Regions from separate parts of the Homo sapiens genome. Here regions 1, 2, 3, 5 and 6 are each reported to be linked to region 4. The links are microRNA targets in miRTarBase. Many come from high-throughput screens and were not tested one by one. Region 4 holds a microRNA gene; each other region holds the end of a gene's coding sequence.

The links. The annotated mature microRNA hsa-miR-4290 reads UGCCCUCCUUUCUUCCCUC and lies in region 4 at 1,501-1,519, shown strand. An mRNA with a match to its seed (bases 2 to 7 or 8) in the 3' UTR can be bound and repressed. Matches are read on the target gene's strand: a 7mer-m8 pairs with bases 2 to 8, a 7mer-A1 pairs with bases 2 to 7 and ends in A, and an 8mer does both.
Region 1: miRTarBase lists GPR45 as a target of hsa-miR-4290. Seed matches in the 3' UTR shown: 8mer at 1,142-1,149.
Region 2: miRTarBase lists CNOT6L as a target of hsa-miR-4290. The part of its 3' UTR that is shown has no 7-base or 8-base seed match.
Region 3: miRTarBase lists HPR as a target of hsa-miR-4290. Seed matches in the 3' UTR shown: 7mer-A1 at 782-788.
Region 5: miRTarBase lists SEPTIN5 as a target of hsa-miR-4290. Seed matches in the 3' UTR shown: 7mer-m8 at 1,021-1,027.
Region 6: miRTarBase lists KCNK12 as a target of hsa-miR-4290. Seed matches in the 3' UTR shown: 7mer-A1 at 2,015-2,021.

Annotation. Positions count from the first base shown.
Region 1 is chr2:105,242,131-105,246,234 of GRCh38, forward strand. It overlaps GPR45 (G protein-coupled receptor 45), which reads left to right. Exons shown (of 1, transcript NM_007227.3): 1 at 1-1,337. The coding sequence ends at 847. Among named protein-coding and RNA genes, the nearest start is that of GPR45, 2.4 kb to the left of the region's middle.
Region 2 is chr4:77,716,644-77,720,747 of GRCh38, reverse strand. CNOT6L (CCR4-NOT transcription complex subunit 6 like) reads left to right here. Exons shown (of 12, transcript NM_144571.3): 12 at 105-4,104. The coding sequence ends at 317. Among named protein-coding and RNA genes, the nearest start is that of CNOT6L, 100 kb to the left of the region's middle.
Region 3 is chr16:72,076,351-72,080,454 of GRCh38, forward strand. HPR (haptoglobin-related protein) reads left to right here. Exons shown (of 5, transcript NM_020995.4): 5 at 1-896. The coding sequence ends at 731. Among named protein-coding and RNA genes, the nearest start is that of HPR, 15 kb to the left of the region's middle.
Region 4 is chr9:90,020,866-90,024,969 of GRCh38, reverse strand. It overlaps MIR4290 (microRNA 4290), which reads left to right and starts at 1,435; the gene lies at 1,435-1,529. It overlaps MIR4290HG (MIR4290 host gene), which reads left to right. Exons shown (of 4, transcript NR_038882.1): 3 at 1-407; 4 at 3,425-4,104. RefSeq lists an enhancer at 34-83.
Region 5 is chr22:19,722,064-19,726,167 of GRCh38, forward strand. SEPTIN5 (septin 5) reads left to right here. Exons shown (of 12, transcript NM_002688.6): 11 at 174-276; 12 at 365-1,256. The coding sequence ends at 421. GP1BB (glycoprotein Ib platelet subunit beta) reads left to right here and starts at 1,476. Exons shown (of 2, transcript NM_000407.5): 1 at 1,476-1,516; 2 at 1,791-2,708. The coding sequence starts at 1,507. The coding sequence ends at 2,401. SEPT5-GP1BB (SEPT5-GP1BB readthrough) reads left to right here. Exons shown (of 12, transcript NR_037611.1): 10 at 174-276; 11 at 365-1,516; 12 at 1,791-2,711. RefSeq lists enhancers at 801-1,579, 1,580-2,357, 3,953-4,104.
Region 6 is chr2:47,517,490-47,521,489 of GRCh38, reverse strand. KCNK12 (potassium two pore domain channel subfamily K member 12) reads left to right here. Exons shown (of 2, transcript NM_022055.2): 2 at 1-4,000. The coding sequence ends at 583. It also overlaps a transcript of MSH2 not described here. Among named protein-coding and RNA genes, the nearest start is that of MSH2-OT1, 8.0 kb to the left of the region's middle. RefSeq lists a silencer at 282-551.

The DNA of each region.
Region 1 (4,104 bases), not on the chromosome of region 4:
CGCCGTCACCCTCATCACCGTGCGCTGGCACTTTGGGGACCACTTCTGCCGCCTCTCAGCCACGCTCTACTGGTTTTTTGTCCTGGAGGGCGTGGCCATCCTGCTCATCATCAGCGTGGACCGCTTCCTCATCATCGTCCAGCGCCAGGACAAGCTGAACCCGCGCAGGGCCAAGGTGATCATCGCGGTCTCCTGGGTGCTGTCCTTCTGCATCGCGGGGCCCTCGCTCACGGGCTGGACGCTGGTGGAGGTGCCGGCGCGGGCCCCACAGTGCGTGCTGGGCTACACGGAGCTCCCCGCTGACCGCGCCTACGTGGTCACCTTGGTGGTGGCCGTGTTCTTCGCGCCCTTTGGCGTCATGCTGTGCGCCTACATGTGCATCCTCAACACGGTCCGCAAGAACGCCGTGCGCGTGCACAACCAGTCGGACAGCCTGGACCTGCGGCAGCTCACCAGGGCGGGCCTGCGGCGCCTGCAGCGGCAGCAACAGGTCAGCGTGGACTTGAGCTTCAAGACCAAGGCCTTCACCACCATCCTGATCCTCTTCGTGGGCTTCTCCCTCTGCTGGCTGCCCCACTCCGTCTACAGCCTCCTGTCTGTGTTTAGCCAGCGCTTTTACTGCGGTTCCTCCTTCTACGCCACCAGCACCTGCGTCCTGTGGCTCAGTTACCTCAAGTCCGTCTTCAACCCCATCGTCTACTGCTGGAGAATCAAAAAATTCCGCGAGGCCTGCATAGAGTTGCTGCCCCAGACCTTCCAAATCCTCCCCAAAGTGCCTGAGCGGATCCGAAGGAGAATCCAGCCAAGCACAGTCTACGTGTGCAATGAAAACCAGTCTGCGGTTTAGGGGGTCAGGGGGCCACAGAGAAGGGGCAGCTGAGCCCCAGTCCCAGGGTGGATCTGTCCTGCTCTGTTCCCTGGCATGTTGGTCATAGTCTGCACTTTGTGGTGGCAATTTAAGCACAAAGGTACTCATTTGTAATCAGATGAGCTGCAGCTCCCAAATTTCAAATTTTGGCACGATGAATTATTTTTGTTTCTCTTTGCAGAGAGCCAAATATGGGGCTGATGGGAACTGCAACGTCATTAAGTCAAAAATGGAGTGGGCTGGGGAGTGCAGAAGTTGGGCAGAAAGGGAGGAGGAGGGCAACAGGGAATGAAGCTGGTTGAGTGTGGGGCAGGAGGACTGGTCAGTCACAAGAGCTTCAACCTGCCCTGCGAGCCCTCTCTGCACCTGCTCAAGAGAAACCCTGAGAAACCCCAGTAGGTGTGAGCTCCTGGGTGTTCATTCATTTTGTTTGACACCAGGGTTCTTCAGCTATTGATGTTTGTGGTGTGTGGGGACTCACATGAGGTTCTTTATGTTGATCAGATGTGCATTTCTTCCCATGCCTAAGTATCTTTTCTAGAAAGAAACCAAAATCACACGGGGAAGCAGAGTGAGCCTCTGTGCTTTGAGCTCCCTGCAATGACGCATGGGAGGCCTCAGAGGCTTGAAGCCCAGAGAAGGTCCTGGGCAGCCCAGCTGAAGTGAGAAGCACATCCGGGAACTCCTGCATGTCCCCAGCGCCCCCCACCTGCTGGGCCCACCCCGTCCCTGCACCCTGAGGCCACTAGGCCTCCCTGTCTGCTGGAGAGCCCCTTGGCCCTTCCCTCTTTCCTCCACCCCTCTCCCTGCCTCCCTTCGTTTTCCTCCCATCCATATCCAGTGTGCTATAGCTCACCCGCTGAGCAAGCATCTGTAGTGACCTGCTTTCAGTGTCAGCAGTGAGCAGGCTGGGCTTAGTTTACACATTTCCTTTGGACACCCTGGAGCTCCAGAGCCCTTCAACCCACCAAATCCACTTCAGCACTGGACCCGCTGCAGGTGCCACACCAACGAGCCCAATTCTCGGGGTCCCCACTGGTCTCTGTGTTCCTCCTACCTCATTCAGATCCACTGCTGCCATCCTGTTTACCTACTGGGACCAGATCCCAGAAGTGAAGTTGCCCAAAGGGGGCTTCTCTGCTTGTGCTCTATTCGGCCACCACCAGGGGTCCCCACACTGGCATATGAGGGTCCTGAGTCCAGGGCATAGCACTGAGCCCACTGAGCTCTCTTTATTGTTCCAGATCTGAAGAGGGTGGGAAATTTAAGGAGAGATTTAGAAAATCTGATTCCAGGTCTGACTCTATCAGGAACTAGTCATTTGACCTTGATCGTTTCTCATTTCTGTGGGCCTCAGTTTCCCCATATGCCAAATGAGGAAGCAGATCTAGATGATTTCCAATGTCCCCTTTCATCTCTCAAACACTCTGATTCTGAAATGTGTGTTTTCTGTCTGTAGTCATCAGATCCCCTGCATTCATTTATTCATCCATGCAAAGAGCATGCATTAAGTGCCTACTAGGTGTAAGGCACTGTGCGGGAGATAGTGATGAATGAGGCATCATAGGCCATGCCCAAAAGCAGTTGTCTGATTTATCTCAGGATCATGGTAACTCAAATTCAGCCTAAGAGCACAGAAGCCCCATTTTTGCTTCACTTCCCGTTTCTTTCTAAACTGCATTAAGAGCCAGCTCCTCCTTCTCATACTTTCTTCCCGCAGTAGTGGTAACATGGGCAGAGAAGAAAGGGGGGTGAAAGGGAAAACATCATTTCTCTTAACCCTCCTCTTCAGCCCAGAGGAGGGTTAAGAAGATAACTGACACTTGTTCCCCCTCACCTCCCTCCCTGTTTATACCCAGATGGAGAGAGAGGGAGAAGATGAGCAATTGATGTGTGACCGACGGAGGTGGGTTCCATCAATTCTGTGTCCCCAGGTCCCCCAGCAAGGTGGGGATTTGCCTTCAGCTCCATGGAGCAGGGCTCTAGGGCCTCAGTAGTGCCCAACAGCACAGCCAAGTCACCAAGGGGACCAAGCCCATGGGCACCTCCCCTCTGGTGGGCATTTCAGATAATTTTCTTCAGGAGCCTTGAACAAAAGGGAAATCACAACTGAATAAATGAAGGTACCAAAATTTACATCAATCAGTGTTATATGATGTATGTTGGACAGTAATATATATGTTTCAAAGTAATAATTTTGTATATATTTTAAATAAAGTATTATTGCTCTTTCGGTGTATAAGCCTAAGTTCTTGCCAAAATTTGCACCAAGACCATACATATTAAGCCCAGGATCCAATACCCAATACTCCTATATCAGTTTGTTCAGACTGCTGTAACAAAATGTGTTAGATTGGGTAATTTATAAACAACAGAAACTTATTTCTTCCAGTTCTGGATGCTGGGAAGTCCAGGATAAAGGTTTAGGTAGATTCAGTGTCTGGTGAGGGTTCCTGCTCTGCTTCTTAGGTGACGCCTTGTTGCTGTGTCCTCGCATGGCAGAAAGGGAAGGGGCACTCCCTCAAGCCTCTTTTCAGGGGCACCAATCTCATTCACCTCCCAAAGGCCCCATCTCTTAATACTATCACATTGAGTATTAGTTTCCAACACATGAGCTTTGGAGACACCAATATTCAGGCCATAGTGATGCCTGAATAAGACAAAAGACTTCAGGAAGTCTAGAGCCTGAAAGTTAGTAGCAAAGCTGGAAAGACTAAAGATAAGATGACAACTGGGAGACTGTTGCAATAACATGGGTCACAGCTGGGTGCCCAGGTGTTTTGTTTTGGTTTTATTAGGATGCTGCTAAATCACTCCAGCCAGTTAGTCTTCTCTGACTTGCAGTGTGCCACTTTCATAATCCTATCTGGCCTTACTTGAACCTTTAACGAACGTTGATTTCCTAAGATACCAAGATATCTGGTTCTGGTCTCCTTCCCTGAGACTCGCAGGATCAGCACTGCTTGATTGTTTTATTTTTTTGAGATGCAGTCTCACTCTGTCACCCAGGCTGGAGTGTAGTGGTGTGATCTTGGCTCATTGCAACCTCCGCCTCCTGGGTTCAAGCGATTCTTCTGCTTCAGCCTCCTGAGTAGCTGGGATTACAGGGCTGTGCCACCAAACCTGGCTAATTTTTGTATTTTTAGTAGAGATGGGGTTTCACCATATTGACCTCCTGACCTCAGGTGATTTGCCTGCCTCGGCCTCCCAAAGTGCTGGGATTACAGGTGTGAGCC
Region 2 (4,104 bases), not on the chromosome of region 4:
GTACCAGAAGAAAGGGTAGTCAGTTTTTTGGTTTTTATAAATTATGGATTGTTCTTTATATATCTTGAATTTTTCTTTTTTTCCTATTCCCAATCTCTTTCCAGGGCGTGATTGACTACATTTTCTATTCCAAGACTCATATGAACGTGCTTGGTGTCCTGGGGCCTTTAGATCCTCAATGGCTGGTTGAGAACAACATCACTGGGTGTCCACACCCTCACATCCCTTCAGACCACTTCTCACTGTTAACACAACTTGAACTCCACCCTCCACTCCTGCCTCTTGTCAATGGTGTTCACTTGCCTAATCGGAGGTAGTGGAGTACTGCCCCGCCAAGACGGGGATCTGTTGCTATGGACCTGTACAGTTGTAAATCAAAGTATGTAGGAGTGAAGTATGGCCATCCTTAAGCTGCTTCTTCAGGTTTCTTTCATTATGTGTTTGCTGTAAGACTTTGTACATTTTTGTGCATATTGGTATCATTTGGCAGTAGGGCTGGAACCAAAGTATTACTCTCTTTACAAAATTTTAATTTAACATGTTTTTAAATTGGACCTTCTTTATATTGTATTAACAGCCAGCATTCAAAATTGATAAATTACCAATTTGAGGCCCAATAACAGTGTATTTGTTTTTCCAAAACAAATACTTTCTTTTGAATGGTTTCAGTGAGCCAACCATTTTATAAAAGGCAATTTTTAAAAACTATAAATACAGTATTTTAAACTGAATGATGATATGCCTTCCAGGGAAAACCTTGAATTTTTCCTTTATAACTGACTTTTGGATTCCAAAGTCATTTGCACATTAACAGAGTACTTAAATTTACTTGTTCAGTCCATAAACTATGATATAGCCTCTATACATGGTAAGAAAATTTGAAAAATTAAAGATGGTTGCACAGTATACTTTTATAATCCAGCATGTAACACCACATGACAATTTGTTGGCCAAATGCTGGTTTGGAGTTTTTTTGAGGAATCACTTTGGTTTTTTTGTCCTTTATATATAACCTTATTGGAAGTATTAATTCTAAGCCTGTCTCTCAAGTTTATTTATAGAGAAAAAGTAAGTAATCTGTATTGCCACATACCTTGAAAATAGAATGTGGTATGTTTAGGATGCCCACGGAATGAATTTTTCCTTATTCCAATTCAACCTTCTGTCTGGTTGTGCCAGGAAAACAGATGTTATATGACCTATGTCATTTTTGCCATTATAGTCAAATGTTAAAAGAAGAAAAAAGTCTGCTGAATAAAAAGGCCTTGATCAAAGTTTCAGATGGGGAAAATCATACAGATATTTTATGTGTTTCCAACATAGATTATGTGGCTGTTGGTTTCTTGAGATGACAGTGCAAAGGATTTGGGAGAGAGAACAAATTTGGGGCAGTAGTTGAAAACGTTGGGTCATTTTCCTGACTCTAGCTGCCAAATGGCCATCATATGCTTTTAATCTTTGTTTCAGTTGTCTGTCAGGGTTGAATTAAGAAGCTACTGGTTTATTCCCAATTGTTGATGCCTTTAGGTATGTTGGAATCTTTTTTTTGCCTAGGAGGGGCCAGTTGAAAATCTGTGACTCAAGAGGCAGTGAACAGAATACTGTTTTCTGGGGAAAAATTGGTTGGCTACTTGATGTTAATTATGGCACAGTAACAGGAAAAGGTTGTGTCTGTGTTTTTAAGTTTTTCTTTATTCTGCTTTTTTGCTGCTATAAGAGTTTTCTGAAATTTATATTTTAAACTTTTCATGCACTTTACTGTTTCTAGTCTCAAAATGTGATATTTTTAATAAACAAGAAATTTTCCATTATGTGAATGAAATTTTAAAAGACAATAGCCTATATTTGTGTCTCACTAATATATAAAGTATAGGTCAAATTTAAATTATTTAATTAGTTTTAAATATACACAATTTGTCTCCTCTTTCAAACCTGACATCTTCGGCTGTTTTATTAGTCTTAAATGATGCATTTACTTTGGTCATTTTATGCTAATTTCTTCCATAGTAAATTAATCAGGCTATATAAGGTAATATTTCCCCAGAGGGTAATTTTAGTGGGACGAGGGTGGTGGGATGATGTCATATCATACATGGGATTGCATCAGAAGGGTTCTGTAAAGCCTGAACTCCCTTTTAAAAGTGCCTAGTGATAGAGGCGTTGTTTGTCATCTATTATAATTGGAATGTCATTGTAGTTCAGTGAATTTTGATGTAAATAAAATATCTTTTAAAAATGTTAAAGTACCAGGATAAACAAACAAAAAGAAACAACCCTTAAGATGACAGATTTTCCTCAACATGCAGGTTTCCCTTCTTATATACCTCAAGTATCCAACATCTAGCCATGCAAATTGATTACCTGAAGCATAGTACTGGAAAGTAGAATAGCATGAAAAACTTAATTTTGTGGACATTACCTTTTTTTGTAATCAGCTACTGTATGTTTTATTTTAGATCTTTTGTTTTGGGTGGGTTTTCTGCTCTGGAGGTATATGCACTAACAAAACATTTTCCTCCTTTCATATACGCATGTTAATTAGCAATGTGAGCAATATTTCCTACCATACTTCACTCCCAATATTTTTTGAGATGTTTGTATAAAATGGAATTTAAAGTTCACTTATGATTGTATATGAACCACAGAGGAGCCCATTTATTAATAAAAAACTTTTTTAATAGTTAAATGTAGAGGGAAAAAATAAAAAAAAATGGGAAACATTGTAAACAGCTTAAGTTTATTTTGTGTATGATCGAGGCACTCTGTTGCAGGAAGGTGTGTAATTGGGTTCTCTCTGCTTCAAATGCGCTCTTTCAAACCATTCATTATCCTGTGTATTTTTAATGTGGTTTTAGTAAATGTTGGTAGTAGCTCTGTTGAAGTAGGTAATTGTGTTATGTTTTGGGTGGTACACACTTGGGGCATGGTAACCCAAATTTCATGTGCACGGTTTCCCTTTAGCCCACTGCCCAAATTTCACATACCCTTCACCCTTTGTTCCCTTTGTAAAAGGAGTGGTATCTGTTTTGAGCTGCCAATTCAGATGATCAGAAATGCTGCTTTCCTCAGCATTGTCTTGTTAAACCGCATGCCATTTGGAACTTTGGCAGTGAGAAGCCAAAAGGAAGAGGTGAATGACATATATATATATATATTCAATGAAAGTAAAATATATATGCTCATATACTTTCTAGTTATCAGAATGAGTTAAGCTTTATGCCATTGGGCTGCTGCATATTTTAATCAGAAGATAAAAGAAAATCTGGGCATTTTTAGAATGTGATACATGTTTTTTTAAAACTGTTAAATATTATTTCGATATTTGTCTAAGAACCGGAATGTTCTTAAAATTTACTAAAACAGTATTGTTTGAGGAAGAGAAAACTGTACTGTTTGCCATTATTACAGTCATACAAGTGCATGTCAAGTCACCCACTCTCTCAGGCATCAGTATCCACCTCATAGCTTTACACATTTTGATGGGGAATATTGCAGCATCCTCAGGCCTGACATCTGGGAAAGGCTCAGATCCACCTACTGCTCCTTGCTCGTTGATTTTGTTTTAAAATATTGTGCCTGGTGTCAACTTTTAAGCAACAGCACTGCCTAAAAGCAAGCAGAGAACAGAATCCCAGCACCATTCTATAGGCAACTTTTTAGAATTCAGATATAGTAAATCTGTTCCAGATTTATGATGTTTTATGTAAAAAAAATTTTGTATAATAACATAGCTGAATATTTTTGTTTCATTTCTTTGATGTAAGGCGTGTGAACATTCGTTTGAATATCACATGTTGAAGTCAGGTATGGCACAATGGGTTCTGAGACCAGCTTTTCCTCCCCTCCCATTTGCCTTGTTCCAAGCTCTTTCTTTTCAAATTACTTTTCTGATATTCATAGGCAGGTATTTAATTTTACTAATTAGCATCCTGTGTGAATGTATTAAAGAAGCCACTGTGTTTTAGTGTAGTTGGCAAAAATATAAAAGCTGTTTCTTATTTGCCCCTATTTTTTTGGTGTCTTAAAGTTATATATTAAATCACAGAGAAGCAAGGGAGAAAGTTGAAAGATATCTAAGGCTCATATCACTTGATTCTATGGTAG
Region 3 (4,104 bases), not on the chromosome of region 4:
GTGGACACCTGGATGCCAAAGGCAGCTTTCCCTGGCAGGCTAAGATGGTTTCCCACCATAATCTCACCACAGGGGCCACGCTGATCAATGAACAATGGCTGCTGACCACGGCTAAAAATCTCTTCCTGAACCATTCAGAAAATGCAACAGCGAAAGACATTGCCCCTACTTTAACACTCTATGTGGGGAAAAAGCAGCTTGTAGAGATTGAGAAGGTGGTTCTACACCCTAACTACCACCAGGTAGATATTGGGCTCATCAAACTCAAACAGAAGGTGCTTGTTAATGAGAGAGTGATGCCCATCTGCCTACCTTCAAAGAATTATGCAGAAGTAGGGCGTGTGGGTTACGTGTCTGGCTGGGGACAAAGTGACAACTTTAAACTTACTGACCATCTGAAGTATGTCATGCTGCCTGTGGCTGACCAATACGATTGCATAACGCATTATGAAGGCAGCACATGCCCCAAATGGAAGGCACCGAAGAGCCCTGTAGGGGTGCAGCCCATACTGAACGAACACACCTTCTGTGTCGGCATGTCTAAGTACCAGGAAGACACCTGCTATGGCGATGCGGGCAGTGCCTTTGCCGTTCACGACCTGGAGGAGGACACCTGGTACGCGGCTGGGATCCTAAGCTTTGATAAGAGCTGTGCTGTGGCTGAGTATGGTGTGTATGTGAAGGTGACTTCCATCCAGCACTGGGTTCAGAAGACCATAGCTGAGAACTAATGCAAGGCTGGCCGGAAGCCCTTGCCTGAAAGCAAGATTTCAGCCTGGAAGAGGGCAAAGTGGACGGGAGTGGACAGGAGTGGATGCGATAAGATGTGGTTTGAAGCTGATGGGTGCCAGCCCTGCATTGCTGAGTCAATCAATAAAGAGCTTTCTTTTGACCCATTTCTGTGTTGTGTTCAGTCTTGAGTCTTTTTTATTTGCTCCTTTATGGTCCAGGGTAGTCAGAAGGTATAGAGTCTACTGGGAGTATGGCAGAAAACACCCTAAACCCACTGGAAATCCCGAAGGTGATACAAACTCTTCCACCTTAGGGAATCATGCTCACTGATTGAGTGCCTATTGAATGCTAGGTCCCAGAAAGTTAACTGTTGTCCTTGTTTTACAGACAAGGAAACAGAGACTCAGAGATGGTAAGTGAGTTGCTTAAGGTTACATAGCTATGAAACAGGGAAGCAGAACTTTGAACCCAGGTCTGTTTGATACAAACTCAGAGGTCCTTTCACTGCATGCTGTTGCCTCTTTAAAGCGAATTAGGAGAAAGGGCATGGGCCTGGTGAGGAAGAGGCTAGCTCAAAATGGGATGGGGAAAAAGTGTTTTAACACAGACAGTACTTCAGAGTTTGGGATCTAACCTACCAGCACTCCAGAAAACAAAAGATGATGATGTAAAGGCAGGATCTCTGGACTTGCTGAGTCCAAATCATGGCTTGGCCCAAACATTTGCTAAGTAATTTAGGCTTCCTGGCCATTAGTTCCTGGTCTCTTCCATGAAGGACTTGAGCCAGGGTAACGTCCCTATCAGCAATAAGCTTCTGGGACTCTGTAAAGAGTGGGGAGGTAGAGTCCCTGCCTCAGTAGAAGCTGCTTTTCCTACTTGGAACAAACCCACCCTTCACCAGGAATCAAAAGCAAGCTGTCTGAGCCTCCTCTCCTGATGGCAGGTCATGCTATTAAGGGTCTCCCAGAAGAAAGCTTCTGGAGCTCTGAGAAACAGAAGCTCTTCTAACAGAACTTTTTCTTGCTATAAGCTTTCAATACCACCAATCACCAATGTGCCTTCTTCTCATGCGAAAATACGGCCCCTCCTTTGCAGGGTGTAAAATGACACTGATGTCACTCTCTCTCACCAGGGTCTGGCCATCTCTGTGAAGCTCTCCTCACAGGCACCCTGCAGATTCATCAATAAACTTCAACAGGTTAGCGCTAGTAGGCCAATAAGACCTATATTCTAGAACCTGTGAAAGAGATAATAGCCAGAAACTGGCAAACACCAGTCAAACTCTTTAAAAAAATGCCTCTTAGAACACAGTCACTTACACATTTTCCTAGATCTCTTCAGCACCAAGTTTCTTGGAAGAACAAGGCACTCTGCAGTTTTCTTAAAGAATTGTCTGATTGTATTAAGTGGCTTCTGGTAAAACAACAGTAAGAGAAAAGTTCTGGCATTCTCTTGATCACTCATCTTCTCTGCCTTCCTCCCCAGCACCACCTCCTGGCCTCAGCCTGTGGGCTTCTGCAAAGTCAGGTATCAGGACTAATTAGCTAGCATCAAATTCCTGTTAATTCCAGAAGCAGGGACAAACCTGTTGGGGAGGGACTTAATGACAAAATTAGGTATAGGTCTATACGTTAATCAAGGAAAATTCTCTACTTCCTTAAACTTACTTACCACCCTAGAGGAGAGCCAAATCCACTCTGATGACGTTTGGTCATAGGAAGGAAATTGGGGAAAATTACAAGTTTCTCCAATCCATGTAAAATTAAGAAATCCTGGGGAAGTTGTAAAGAGAAAACAGTACCCTATTCCCTTGAAAGGCAGAATAGGTTTATAACTTATAATCGAAGGTCTCCTTCAGGAAGGACTTCTTGAACCCCATATGTCCTCTTACAACACTCCAATATTGCCTGTAAAAAAGTCGGATGGGTCATAGCGGCTACTGCGAGACCTTCGAGCCATTAACCAAATAGTCCAGACCACCCACCCTGTCATTCCTAACCCTTACACCATTATCAGCAAGATCCCTCATGACTGCCAGTGGTTCACAGTAATAGACCTCAATGATGACTTCTGGGCTTGCCCCTTAGCTGTGGATAGCTGGGACATATTTGCTTTTGAATGGGAAGACCCTCATTCCAGTTGGAAGCAATAGTAGTGATGGACAGTTCTACCCCAAGGGTTTACAGACTCTCCAAACCTATTAGTCAAAGTTTGGAACAAGTCCTAGAGAATTTCCCTCTTTCATCATCCTTATGTCTACTCCAATATGTGGATGACCTGCTCATTTCCAGAGGCACCAAAGACCAAGTAACCGCAATTTTAATTAGCTTTCTAAATTTCCTAAGGGAACAATGGTTACGGGTCTCAAAAAGTAAACTCCAGCTTGTAGAACCTGAGGTAAAACACATGGGGCACTTAATAAGCAAAGGTAAGCCGAAGATAGGGCCCGAACAAATGGAAGGGATCATATCCCTGCCACTGCCTGAGACAAAACAAGAACTTAGAAAATTCTTCAGGCTAGCTGGAAATTATTGCCTGTGGATTGACTCTTATGCCTTAAAAACAAAACCTCTATATCTAAAACTTACCCAAGAAGGGCCTGACCCCCTTCTTTGGACCCCACAAGAAGTCCAGCAAGTTGAGGAACTAAAACATCTACTTATAACTGCCCCTGTCTTAGCTCTGCCATCCTTAGAACAGCCATTTCACTTTTTTGTTAATATAAGCAATGGGGCAGCTATAGGAGTACTCACTCAAAAGCATGGGGCCATTGCCAGCCCACAGCCTTTCTGTCAAACATTCTTGACGTGGTAACCTGTGGGTGGCCCGAATGTATCCAATCTACAGCAGCAACTGTTTTATTGACAGAGGAAAGTAGAAAAATAACCTTTGGGGGAAGTCTCATCCTAAGCACACCCCATCAGGTTAAAACCATTCTTAGCCAAAAAGCAGGGAGATGGCTTACAGATTCAAGAATCCTAAAATATGAAGCTATCCTATTAGAAAAAGGTGATTTAACCCTAACCACTGACAATGTGCTCAACCCCGCCACCTTCCTTTTTTTTTTTTTTTTTGAGATGGAGTTTCACTCTTATTGCCCATGCTAGAGTGCAATGGCACAATCTCGGCTCACCGCAACCTTTGCCTCCTGGGTTCAAGCAATTCTCCTGCCTCAGCCTACCAAGTAGCTGGGATTACAGGCATGCCACCATGCCTGGCTAATTTTTTTGTATTTTTAGTAGAGATGGGGTTTCTCCATGTTGGTCAGGCTGGTCTTGAACTCCTGTCCTCAGGTGATCTGCCTGCCTTGGCCTCCCAAAGTGTTGGGATTACAGGCGTGAGCCACTGTGCCCGGCCTACCCCGCCACCTTC
Region 4 (4,104 bases):
GCTGGGCTTGCTGGTCCTTAGACTTGGAGCACCTGATGCTGTTTGCCCATCTGTGTCCTTGTCAGCCTTTGAGAATTGGATCTGGCAGCCCCTCCTCAGGAAGCCCATGAGAGCCTCCGCCCCATACTCACACAGACCCTGAGCTAGGTGGCCCCTGCCTGTGTCCCTCAGCTCCCAGCCCAGCTTCCATGCAGCTTTAGCACAGTTTACCAGCACCATCAAGACCCCTCTGGGAGGACAGAGAGCTCTGGGAGGACAGAGAGCTCTGAAGGACAGAACACGCATGCCTTTCTGGTTGTTCCTCTGAAGCCTAGCACAACACTGACACGTGAGAAATACTGGCTGAATAAAAGGTGGAAGTGAAAAAGAACAACACTGACACGTGAGAAATACTGGCTGAATAAAAGGTGGAAGTGAAAAAGAAAGACAAGAAAGGAGGATAGAAGGAAGCAGAGTGGTTGGGAGGAAGGGAGGGGGGAATAGCTTTTCAAGGAAAAATGATGGATGGTATGAGAATGAAGGGGAGATGACTATTTCCTACAGAAAATTTCTATTGTCATTAATAATGACTTTTGGCATCACTCTTTTGTTTCTCATTTTCTAGACTCCACATTTAAGGCCTATCTAGTGTAAATCGAGGGGAGAAAAGGTACCAGTTCAATTGCCAAGCAAACTTAACATATAAGTTAGTCGCAGATCTGGACTGGAACACAGATCTTTCTCTCATTTTTGAAGCACTCAGGGTTGGGACTTTGACTATCAAACTTGTCTTCTTAAATAAGGTCATGCTTACCTGGGTTTCTTCCAAATCATCACACCCTCACTCAAACTGTGTTTAGAAAAGAAAGGGGAAATTAGCTGCTTGTTGCTCAAATATTAAGAGCTCCTTCCTGCAGATTGACGCTACTTTGTAGATCAGGCCACGCCTGGCAAAATTCTTGGCAGTGTTGTGTCTACACAGGAGAACACCCTCCTAATGGGCCGTGGGTTTACATTTCCTGTAGAGAGATGTGACTGCTATGCATGATACCCTGAAAAAGTGATGCTGTAGGTCTAGCTACCTGAACAATGCAGACTGCGTCCCTTCGCAGCTGTGGAGTGGGGAGTACTGGTCCCACACTGAGGACTGAAGGATTCTCTGCTTTCTTGCTTGAACTGCAAAGGATGCCTTGACTTTGGGCTGCCAGGAGGGGGACGGTGTGCTGGCTTTCACCTCGCCAATTGGCAAAGTTGGCTTGGCCAACCTGATGGGTCAAACACACCTGGGGTCAAAACAGAATCTCTAGCTCTACCCTCAGCCCTCAGTCCCATAGCCACATGAACAGTCTGAGCAGTGTATTTGCTGGTGTGAACTGAAATAGGAGGACAAAGAAAGAGGAAACGAGGGAGGGATTTGAGCAGAGAGGAACACAGCCCTTGGCCCCATGGTGGGCTGCCACCAAGAAGGTGAAGGGAGGGTCAGTCCCAATCTGAATCCCACCAAAATAGGTGGTAGAGGGTTGCCCTCCTTTCTTCCCTCACCTCTGACCCCGCTCTTCGAAGCCCTGGTCCTGTCAAGGCACCTATCCCATGGCCCATGTGGCAGTAGCTTGTTCCCAGCGACCACTCAGCTTTCCACTGAATGGAAGCAGAGAGTGAGTCCAGGTATCACTTACTCAAGGCAGAATCTTCCAGAACCTTCTAGACTCAAATGAGTGAAGTGGTTAAAGAGAGAAGAGAAATCACTGGGAGCAAGGTCTCTAGATGGGGTTTTCTTCCCCTGTCCCCACAAGTCCCATGCCATAAGTGACCATTTTATAAACTTGCTGCTGGGACAGCTTCATTCCAAAGATATTGTGGTTGGGCTGTGAACCCAGGAAGTTTACATGATCAACTTTTACCCAAAGGATTGTCACATGACCCCCAGTGCTGGGATGACACAGAAATACAATCTGTCAAATTTATATGAATCCAAAGGGAAATGAAACATGTAAAACTGAGACTGCAGCCCAGTTTTTTGTTATGGCTTCAACAAAGCAATGCCACATCAGCCTGTCTGAGCATAGCACATTGTCTTCATGTTGATGTGCAAGATTCCCTACAGACTGCAGACCAGGGCTCAGCAAGAACATGGAAGGAAAATGTCCCACAGCAAAAGGAGAAACAAATACAGATTAGAGTGTTTAACAGGGCCAGGCACACAGCAAGTCATCACTGGATGGCAAATCTAAACTCAGCAAGTCATTACTGCATGGTGAATCTAAGTTCTTACAGTTATCACTAGTACTGCAGACACCTAGTGGAGACGTATGCTTACTCATGCAGTGTGTGAGTAAGCTCAGGCTGCCAGCACAAAATACCATGGACTGGGTGGCGTAGACACCGCAATGTATCTCCCACAGTTCTAGAGGCTGGACATCCAAGATCAAGGTGCCAGCAAGGTAGATCTCATTCTGAGGTTTCTGCCCTTGGCTTGTAGGTGGCCACAGCCTCCCTGCATGCTCATGTGATCTCTTCTTTGTGTATGGAGGAAGAGGTGGGGGAAGCCTTCTGGTGTCTCTTACAAGGACACTAATCCTATTGGATCAGGGCCTCACCCTTATAACCTCATTTAACCTTATTTACTTCTGTAAAGGCCCTGCATCCAAATACAGCCACACTGGGTGTTCAAGCTTCCACATATGAATTTTGGGAGGATACAACATTCAGTCTATGAGATGAAGGCACAGTCCGGTAGCACTACTCTGAAGTTATCTGATGCTGTGCATCTTTATCTACATGGTGACACTTAATTCACAATTTATCCCCAGGACTCAGGCCAGCTAGGCAGGCATTATTAAAGAAAAGTCTGTCTGGTTCAGTAAAATCTTAGGATAGAATTCTACTAAGCCTATCAATTGGCTTTTGATTCCAGAACCATCTTTGTAAAAGGTTGTAGGGAAAATTTGTAAAAGGTTGTAGGGAAAAATATGTGGGGGAAAAACATTTAAATGAAATCATGGTCTCCTTTGGAAATCCAGGTTACAGAACATGGTGTGCAGGCATGAGGGTCACCAGGTCTTGCTGGATTGCAGATGCTCATGGTGAAGACAGGAGTTTACAGGGGCAGTGGGTCTGCCCACATGTCCCAGCACTGAGCCGTTGCTGACTCTCAGAACCTGGTCATCCAGGTGCTGTGTCCCCTACTCGTTTACTGTAACTGAGAAATTTTCCAGGCAAGGTGGAGCTGAAGCCTAAATATATCTTCAAGCCCTCATGCCTGTCTGCTTGCAAATATTTCACCCTTCCTTCTTGGCTATTTCCATCAATGTTGTTTTGTTCTGAGAGTGAATGCCCAGAGAGAGACATTCTGTACTTAACCGGTTTGTGTTTTGTGATTTTTGTGTTGGTACTAGCTCTTTCAGCACAGTGAAATTTTAAACAAGTAACTCTCTCTGCTTACCAGGCACTGTGCATTCCCTGCCCATGAGGAAGGAAGCAGCTTATTCCATTTTCACCCCAGCAGAACCCCTGCATGCAGGTTTAGGTCAACACTAGCTGCCAGCAGGATGGAGACCCAGCAGCATGCGGCACACGGGAGTCTCGCCGCGGGTCCTTGACAGAAGAGTAACGAGACTTTTCTTGAAATAGTGTCCTGAGTTGAGATCTGAGAAGAACCTGTTATGCATCCTAGAACACAGTGCATTTGCAAGTCATAAGATGTTAGCACCGATTATGGAGCCTCGTGTGTTCTTAGGGGCTATTTCCGTGACCTCGTCGGGGGTTCAATGAGCAGCTTCAACAGAAAACTGGATTTCCTTTTCCTCCAAGGCTGTCTTATTTCCAGATTACTCTGGACCTAATTTTAATCGTGCACACCTACCATGGCAGGCTGTTTTCCTGTCCTCCCAATGATCTCCATACAATCTCACTGCTGGGTAGCACCTCCATTCCCTTGCTTACCTAAGCCATCAAAACCTGCAACAACTCACAAAACCACAAAAAGCAACAGAAAATATCAGAAGATAATCAAATGAATCAAGACCTCCAGAAAACTGTGCATAATTCAGTTTTCATTTCATTTAATGATAATGTCCACAGTTAATCAGGCATTCCTTATCATTTGGATCTACATGTTGAATAAAC
Region 5 (4,104 bases), not on the chromosome of region 4:
TCCCTAAGCCCCCCCCCTCCCCCAGAGCCTGGTCTCCCTAGAACCAAGTCCAGGGCTGTGAGGGCTCCGGAGGGCAGGGCCTCAGCAGTGGCGGGGATGGGCCAGGCATCGCCAGCCCACGCTGAGCCTCCCGGTGGCGCCGCCCCGCCCATCCTCCCCCCCGCCCCGCGCAGCAAACTGACCCAGGACAGCCGCATGGAGAGCCCCATCCCGATCCTGCCGCTGCCCACCCCGGACGCCGAGACTGAGAAGCTTATCAGGATGAAGGATGAGGAAGTATGTGGGGCGGCGGGGGCGGCGGAGGCGGGCGTCAGGGATGCTCCTCCGCGGTGCTGCTCACCCGCCGGGTTGTCTCCGCCCGCAGCTGAGGCGCATGCAGGAGATGCTGCAGAGGATGAAGCAGCAGATGCAGGACCAGTGACGCTCGCCGCGGACACACCGTCCGTCTCCGGGACGCCCTCGCACCCCTGGACACCAGACCGGACTGTTCCCGACCCGGAGACGCGGGGCCACAGCCCCCAGCTGACCCTAATTTATTCTCAGCACCACCCCCTCCCAGGTCATTGTGTCTGTTTCCGAGGGGCCTGGACCGTAGCCCCCGCCCAGCTGGCCCTCTCTGACCTTGGGGGATCAGGAGCGAAGTTGGGCGGGACTTCAGAGATCCGCCTCCCTTGCCCTTCCCCCGCCCCCGGACGGTCACAGCACCCAAACCGCAGGCCCTGCTCTGGCAGGCAGGCAAAGCTAGGCAGAAGAGGATTCCCAGGATCCTGGGTCTGTTCCCTGCCCCAGTGCTGCAGAACGGACTTGGGAGCCCTCCTTTGCCTGCTCCCGCGGGTCACCCAGCGAGTGCTGAGACCCCATTTTCTGTCGAGGCGGGCCGAGTCTTCCCTTATCCCCAGACGCCTAGCGGGCAGGGTTGGGCTGAATCAAATGGGAGCCCTCCAGACATAAGGAGGCCAGAGGCTGCAAGGAGCGGGGTCGTGACCGCTTACACCCCTTCTCCACAGCCCGGCCCGACCTGGAGGGCCCCCGGGGCACTGGGCGGTGAGCCACCTCCTGGCAACTCTCGGTGCCGTCCCCTGCCCTCGCTCGAGGCCTCTTCTCCCCAGCACCGCTGTGGTGTGCCGGGATCCTGAGCCTAGGCCTCCCGATGTTCCCACCCGCATGATCCCTTCCCGCCACACGATGCTCCGTTTTCTTCCGTTGTGAATGCCGCGTCCTGTCCTGGTGACAGGAGAACAATGTTGGTGAACGTCGCAGCGGGTGTCCGAGTGCTCCGTGTGCCCCTGAGAGCGGGTGGGAGCGGAAGCCTGAGCGGCCTGCGGCCTCCGGCGATAGTGTGCTATCTGCCGCTGCAGCGCGCGTCCGCGCGGCCTCTGGGCTATTTCTGGCCAGGCCGCAGCACTGTGGTCGGTGCGGGCGTGGCAGGGGCGGGGCGGCCTTATCGCTCGGCTCTCCCGCCTACGCCTCCCGCTGCAGAGTAAGCCGGGCTGCCGTCTTCTCGCCATGGGCTCCGGTGAGTCTGGAGTCCGGTCGGGCCCCCGGCTGCTCCCTAGGCCGACCCGGGTTGAGAGGAGCTCTGGTCGTTTGGCTGCAGCTGGGAGAGACTTGGGTCAGACTTAGAGGGGACTTCCAGCCGGCGTGCGGGGTGGTCAGGGTGGAGAGGCTGGCGGGCTACCGGGACGCCGGGCATCAGGGGCTGGATGGAGCCGGGCCGGCAGTCTGGGTACTCAGAGATGTCGCCCAGGTGCCCGCCGACCGCTCGGCTTACTGCGGCGCTTCCCTTGCAGGGCCGCGCGGGGCGCTGAGCTTACTGCTCCTGCTGCTGGCCCCGCCGAGCCGCCCGGCCGCAGGTTGCCCGGCGCCCTGTAGCTGCGCGGGGACGCTCGTGGACTGCGGGCGCCGCGGGCTGACTTGGGCCTCGCTGCCGACCGCCTTCCCTGTCGACACAACCGAGCTGGTGCTGACCGGCAACAACCTGACGGCGCTGCCGCCGGGGCTGCTGGACGCGCTGCCCGCGCTGCGCACCGCACACCTGGGCGCCAACCCCTGGCGCTGCGACTGCCGCCTTGTGCCGCTGCGCGCCTGGCTGGCCGGCCGCCCCGAGCGTGCGCCCTACCGCGACCTGCGTTGCGTGGCGCCCCCAGCGCTGCGCGGCCGCCTGCTGCCCTATCTGGCCGAGGACGAGCTGCGCGCCGCTTGCGCTCCCGGCCCGCTCTGCTGGGGGGCGCTGGCGGCGCAGCTTGCGCTGCTGGGCCTTGGGCTGCTGCACGCGTTGCTGCTGGTGCTGCTGCTGTGCCGCCTGCGGAGGCTGCGGGCCCGGGCCCGCGCTCGCGCCGCAGCCCGGCTGTCGCTGACCGACCCGCTGGTGGCCGAGCGAGCCGGAACCGACGAGTCCTGAGGAGAGAACCGGTGCGTCCTGAGGAGAGAACCGGCGCTGGGCAACACGGGCCTGCAAACTCGACAGGACCCTGCCCGAGGGGCCCTCGCGCCAACCTGGACCGGTCCCCGCCTCCTCCGCTGCCCAATCTCTCAGACCCACCCCACCTGCAGGCCCAGACCACGTGGGACAGAACTCCTGCCCACCCTACCCCGAGGGAGGCGAACCCGCACTTCCAGGCTTGGGAGGACCATGGGGCACAATGCGGTCCAGACCCTGCTGCGTCTCCCTTCCAAACTCTGGTGCTGAATAAACCCTTCTGATCTGGTCTTCTCTGCACGACTGACCTGGAAATTCCCCTCGCCAAACTCAGGAAAAGGCCCCAGGAGGCGGTTCAAGGGGACACAAACACATCCTCACATGCCCACCCTAACCTCAGGGGCAGACAGGAGTCAGTGGGTGACCTCTCCCCTTCCAGACACACTCCCAAAAGGCCACATGGGAAGGCATGAGAGAGATGCTAAGTGATAACGTGGGGGCCAGTGAGGACGTTGTGGGGACACTGAGGACCCTGTGGGGGCAGTGAGGATGCTGTGGGGATGCTGTGGGGACAGTAAGGACACTGGGGGCAGTGAGGACGCTGTGGACACTGCGGACGCTGTGGGGACAATGACGCTGTGGACAGTGAGGACGCTGTGGGGGCGGTGAGGACACTGTGGAGTGAGGACACTGGGGGCAGTGAGGACGCTGTGGACAGTGAGGGCGCTGTGGGGGCGGTGAGGACGCTGTAGGGGCGGTGAGGACGCTGTGGGGGCGGTGAAGGCGCTGTGGGGATGGTGAGGACGCTATCCGGGGCGGTGAGGACGCTGTGGACGGTGAGAACGCTGTGGGGACACTGAGGATGCTGTGAGGACGCTGTGGGGGCAGTGAGGACGCTGTGGACCGTGAGGACGCTGTGGGGATGGCGAAGACTCTGTGGGGGCGGTGAGGACTCTGTGGACGGTGAGGACGCTGTTGGGGCAGTGAGGACGCTGTGGACCGTGAGGACTCTGTGGGGGCGGTGAGGACTCTGTGGACGCGGTGAGGACGCTGTGGGGGCGGTGAGGACGCTGTGGACAGTGAGGAGGCTGTGGAGACAATGGGGACGCTGTAGACAGGACGCTGTGGAGGCGGTGAGGGCGCTGTGGGGGCGGTGAGGACGCTGTGGACACTGACGACGCTGGAGGTAACAATGAGGACATTGGGGACAATGAGTACACTGTGGGGGCGGTGAGAACGCTGTGGACACTGAGGACGCTGTGGGGGCGGTGAGGGCGCTGTGGACGCGGTGAGGACGCTGTGGGGGCGGTGAGGACGCTGTGGGGACCGTGAGGACGCTGTCGGGGCGGTGAGGACGCTGTGGACGCGGTGAGGACGCTGTGGGGACGGTGAGGACGCTGTGGGGACCGTGAGGACGCTGTCGGGGCCGTGAGGACGCTGTGGACGCGGCGAGGGAGCTGTCAGGGCGGTGAGGACGCTGTGGACGCGGTGAGGACGCTGTGGACGCGGCGAGGGAGCTGTCGGGGCGGTGAGGACGCTGTGGACGCGGTGAGGGCGCTGTGGGGACGGTGAGGACGCTGTGGACGCTGTCGGGGCAGTGAGGACGCTGCGGACGTTGAGGACGCTGTGGGGGCGATGAGGACGCTGTCGGGGCGGTGAGGACGCTGTCGGGGCGGTGAGGACGC
Region 6 (4,000 bases), not on the chromosome of region 4:
CGTGGAGGGCTGGGACTACGTGGACTCGCTCTACTTCTGCTTCGTCACCTTCAGCACCATCGGCTTCGGGGACCTGGTGAGCAGCCAGCACGCCGCCTACCGGAACCAGGGGCTCTACCGCCTGGGCAACTTCCTCTTCATCCTGCTCGGCGTGTGCTGCATTTACTCGCTCTTCAACGTCATCTCCATCCTCATCAAGCAGGTGCTCAACTGGATGCTGCGCAAGCTGAGCTGCCGCTGCTGCGCGCGCTGCTGCCCGGCTCCTGGCGCGCCCCTGGCCCGGCGCAATGCCATCACCCCAGGCTCCCGGCTGCGCCGCCGCCTGGCCGCGCTCGGTGCCGACCCCGCGGCCCGCGACAGCGACGCCGAGGGCCGCCGCCTCTCGGGCGAGCTCATCTCCATGCGCGACCTCACGGCCTCCAACAAGGTGTCGCTGGCGCTGCTGCAGAAGCAGCTGTCGGAGACGGCCAACGGCTACCCGCGCAGCGTGTGCGTCAACACGCGCCAGAACGGCTTCTCGGGCGGCGTGGGCGCGCTGGGCATCATGAACAACCGGCTGGCCGAGACCAGCGCCTCCAGGTAGACCGCCCGTCCGCCCGCGCCGGGGACCCTCTCCAGGCCGCGGGGCCGCCGGGCGTGGTTTGCTTCTCTCAGTCACTGCTGGCGCTTTCTTAATCTTTATCCAATAAAATGAAACAAAAAAAATTTTTTTAAAGAAATACTATTTGGCCAGGCCTGATGTTATCAAGGGCAGGTTTTGGGGACGCCTGTGTTCCTTGTGAGTCCCCTCTTGGAGAACCGTGGCCCCCAGCAGATTCTCCTTCAGGGAGAGAAAACGTGGCCCCCCAGGCCCACACCCAGGGCATACCGCAGCGAGGAGGGTTTTGCAGACTGGCACTAAACCCCGTCCCCATGCACAGAAGCAGCCGGCAACCCCAAAGCATATGGTGCAACTTTTCGTGGCTCTGAATTACCTCCTCAGCATTTAGAATCCTGGCCCAGCCTAGCAGCTTCCTTCTGGTCGTCAGAAGTGATATAGTCACAGTTTTGACAGGTGGGGGTTGGGACAGCCATATGTTGCCTCCCGATGTATATATATAGAACAGCCACTACACACAGAGAATGGTGTAGTATTATGCAATGAGATGAAACATAGCACCAACTTGCGGACTGTGGCATTTCCCCCAGATTTGGAAATTGCAGTGGTGAGGGGCTTAGCTGGCCTTTCTCAGCTCAGAGTTAGTCCATTTAGCACAGAGCACAGGGCAGCTACTTCTAATGGTGGGCGGTCCAGGGCACCTGTGAGGAGGGGAGCGGTGAGGCTGCAGGAGCCCTGCTGGGCTTTTAGCTGGCTGATCTCCAGGCTCGGATCGGCAGATCTTGAATCCCCCAACCGTCCTTTCTTTCACAAGCTCATCCACAGCAGTGCTTTTCAATATTAACCAGGAATATCTGAGTCTTCTCAGACAAGATATTTATTTGTTGGTGTGGATTTTTTTTTTCTTAACTACTGTTGATCAGTTCAACTTTTCCCCCTTTAAGAGATCATGGGGTTGCCGGGCGCAGCCCTCCAGCTTCTCCTCCTCCTCCTCTGAAGGAGGCACCTCTGCCAGCTGCGTCCTTGGGAACCAGGGCCTGCAGCACCAGGAACCCAAAAGAAGCCATCTTGCAAATGTCAGGGTATTTGGCTCCAGAGGCCATGATGTGTTTGGGGTCAGGAAAGATAGAATCCCTTTCTAAATATTGTTTATCAAGAGGATTTGTCTTCTCCATGCACAGCCTATTGGAGGCAGAGGAAGGCAGGAGGGAGGTAGCTGGTGAAACTGGTGGATGGAAGTAATGTTAGGATTACAGTTTTGCTCTCGGGCTGAGGGACAGATTCTCCCAGACTTGCCTTCTGCAGCATAGGGGGTCCCTGACCTGGAGGAAGGCCAGATACCCAGGCTTCATTGAAAGGATAGTGGTCTGGGGGTGTAAACGAACACTCTCTCTGCCCATTTTTCTCATATATGATGAGGGCAAGGACAGGTGCCAGAGTTTATACAGGCACGGCGTGACCCACCAGTATGCACAGCTTCTGATAGGAAGTCTTAGAAAAGCACCGCCTCACCGCCTCCAGCTGGAGCCATGCTGTGAAATCTCTCTCCCTGGCAAATGTGCGTGGAACACACACACACACAAACATGCACGCATGCGCTCACGCACCCAGCATTAGAGTCAAACTTGAATGTCAAACTCTTCTTTCCCCTTCTAGTTCATGGCAGGAAGGGAAAGCTTACCTGAGATCTCAGTGACTCTCCAGCTATTTTGGGTAATTTCTGATTTGAGTTGGGATTGGTTTTTAAACACAGGCCCTAATCTGGGGTGAAGCCAGTGAAGCAGCGCTGGCCAGGAGAGACGTCAGTCTTGCTAAATCCTGAAGGTGGGTTCCTGTGAAAACCATGCTTTCAGGATTCACTGTGACTGTCAGGCCAGCCCAGTGAGTGCCCCCCATCCAACCCATGGTTGCGGTCACAGTGAAGGGATTGCCCACGCAGGGGCGCACGTGTTCTCTAGGGCAGGGCCCTCTGACAGGACCTGGAAATAAAATCCACATTTATCCCTTTAAAAAAGGGAACGATTAAAAGGCATCCAATTAGAGGTGTTACCTAGGCAACAGGAAATAACTTGGGGATCAGAGCCATCCAGAGAGGGAAGAAGAGATCCCCATGATAGAGGCATCTAGACAGTGAGGACTTGATCTGCGGGCAAAATAACAGCCTACCCACAGGAAGTGAGCCCCAGCAACAGTACAGCAGCCTAAAACCCAGGCATCAAGACTGTGTGAGCTAGACAGGTCTAAAGAAACCTCCAGGCAATCCCCCGCCCAGCGTGCAGGACTACACAGAATCGTGGTCTCCATGGGAGGAACCAGGACCCACCTCCAGAGAAGAAAAACTCAAAATGTTTCTTGGCAGTCTTCTCTGTTGGCGGTGCTTCCTAGACTCTATCCTAAGTTGCTTATGCTGCAGCCTCAGCTGTTTTTACTTGTTTTCCTATGCTTTGGTTTTGGAAAGAGGCAATTGGAGGCAGCTTGAGCAATCTTCTAAAGGAATGGTAAGCATGGTTTCAAGGGGCAGGAAAATGAGACCCTTCCTCTTCCCACCTCCCAACTTCCCAGAGAAACGCCAGTCCTCCAAGGTACAATGGCAGCTCAGGATCCAGTGGCACATGTGTATTTTTGCCTATGTTCCCCTGTCCCCATCCCCCAATCCAGTCTCAGTCACACTGCCATGATACATCACACCATCATCCTTCATCTCAGGCCAAAGGGCTCAGCGCCCCAGACGACAGGGACTGCTTCCCTGAAGCAGGGATGTGGTTCTCCCATCATTTCAGGAACAGTGACATTGATAGGGATGCCTTTCTTTGGTGCAGGTTCTTCTGAACCTCAGGCCAAGAAAGAGCTCCATTCCCTCAGATGCTGTGGCCTCTCTCACTGTCTTGGGGGTCTCCAGTTTGCACACCACTGGTAGCTCACTGTAGCCTACAATTTCCTCATGCTCCAGGATTTGCTTCCTAACCTTAGGCCTGGACTTACCCATCATGCCGGTGCTGTGGGGCTCCCTTAAAGTTTGAATGAACTCCAAGAGGCCCTCACCATATGACTGTGGCCACAGAGAATCCAGAGTCTTGGCTAGCAGCCTTCTCAGAGCTGAGGAGAAAGGTAAAGAAGCCACCCTGGGTGTCCTAGCTTGCTAAAGCCAGGTGGTCAGGCCTTTGTGTCCTCTGAATGAAGCAGTGCCTCCAGGCCTGGAGAAGGCATCAGAAGGCTTAGGCAATCTCAGGCTCTCATTTTGTGGAAAATGCCAGACAGCCCTGGGCATTTGCACAGCATCATGCATATATGTATATATATATACACACACACATACACACCAGCCTTACAAAGAGCTACTAACCCTTTTCCCCAAGGAAAAGTCTCAGTCTGGGCCACTTTAAGAAGAAAGATTTCCCATTT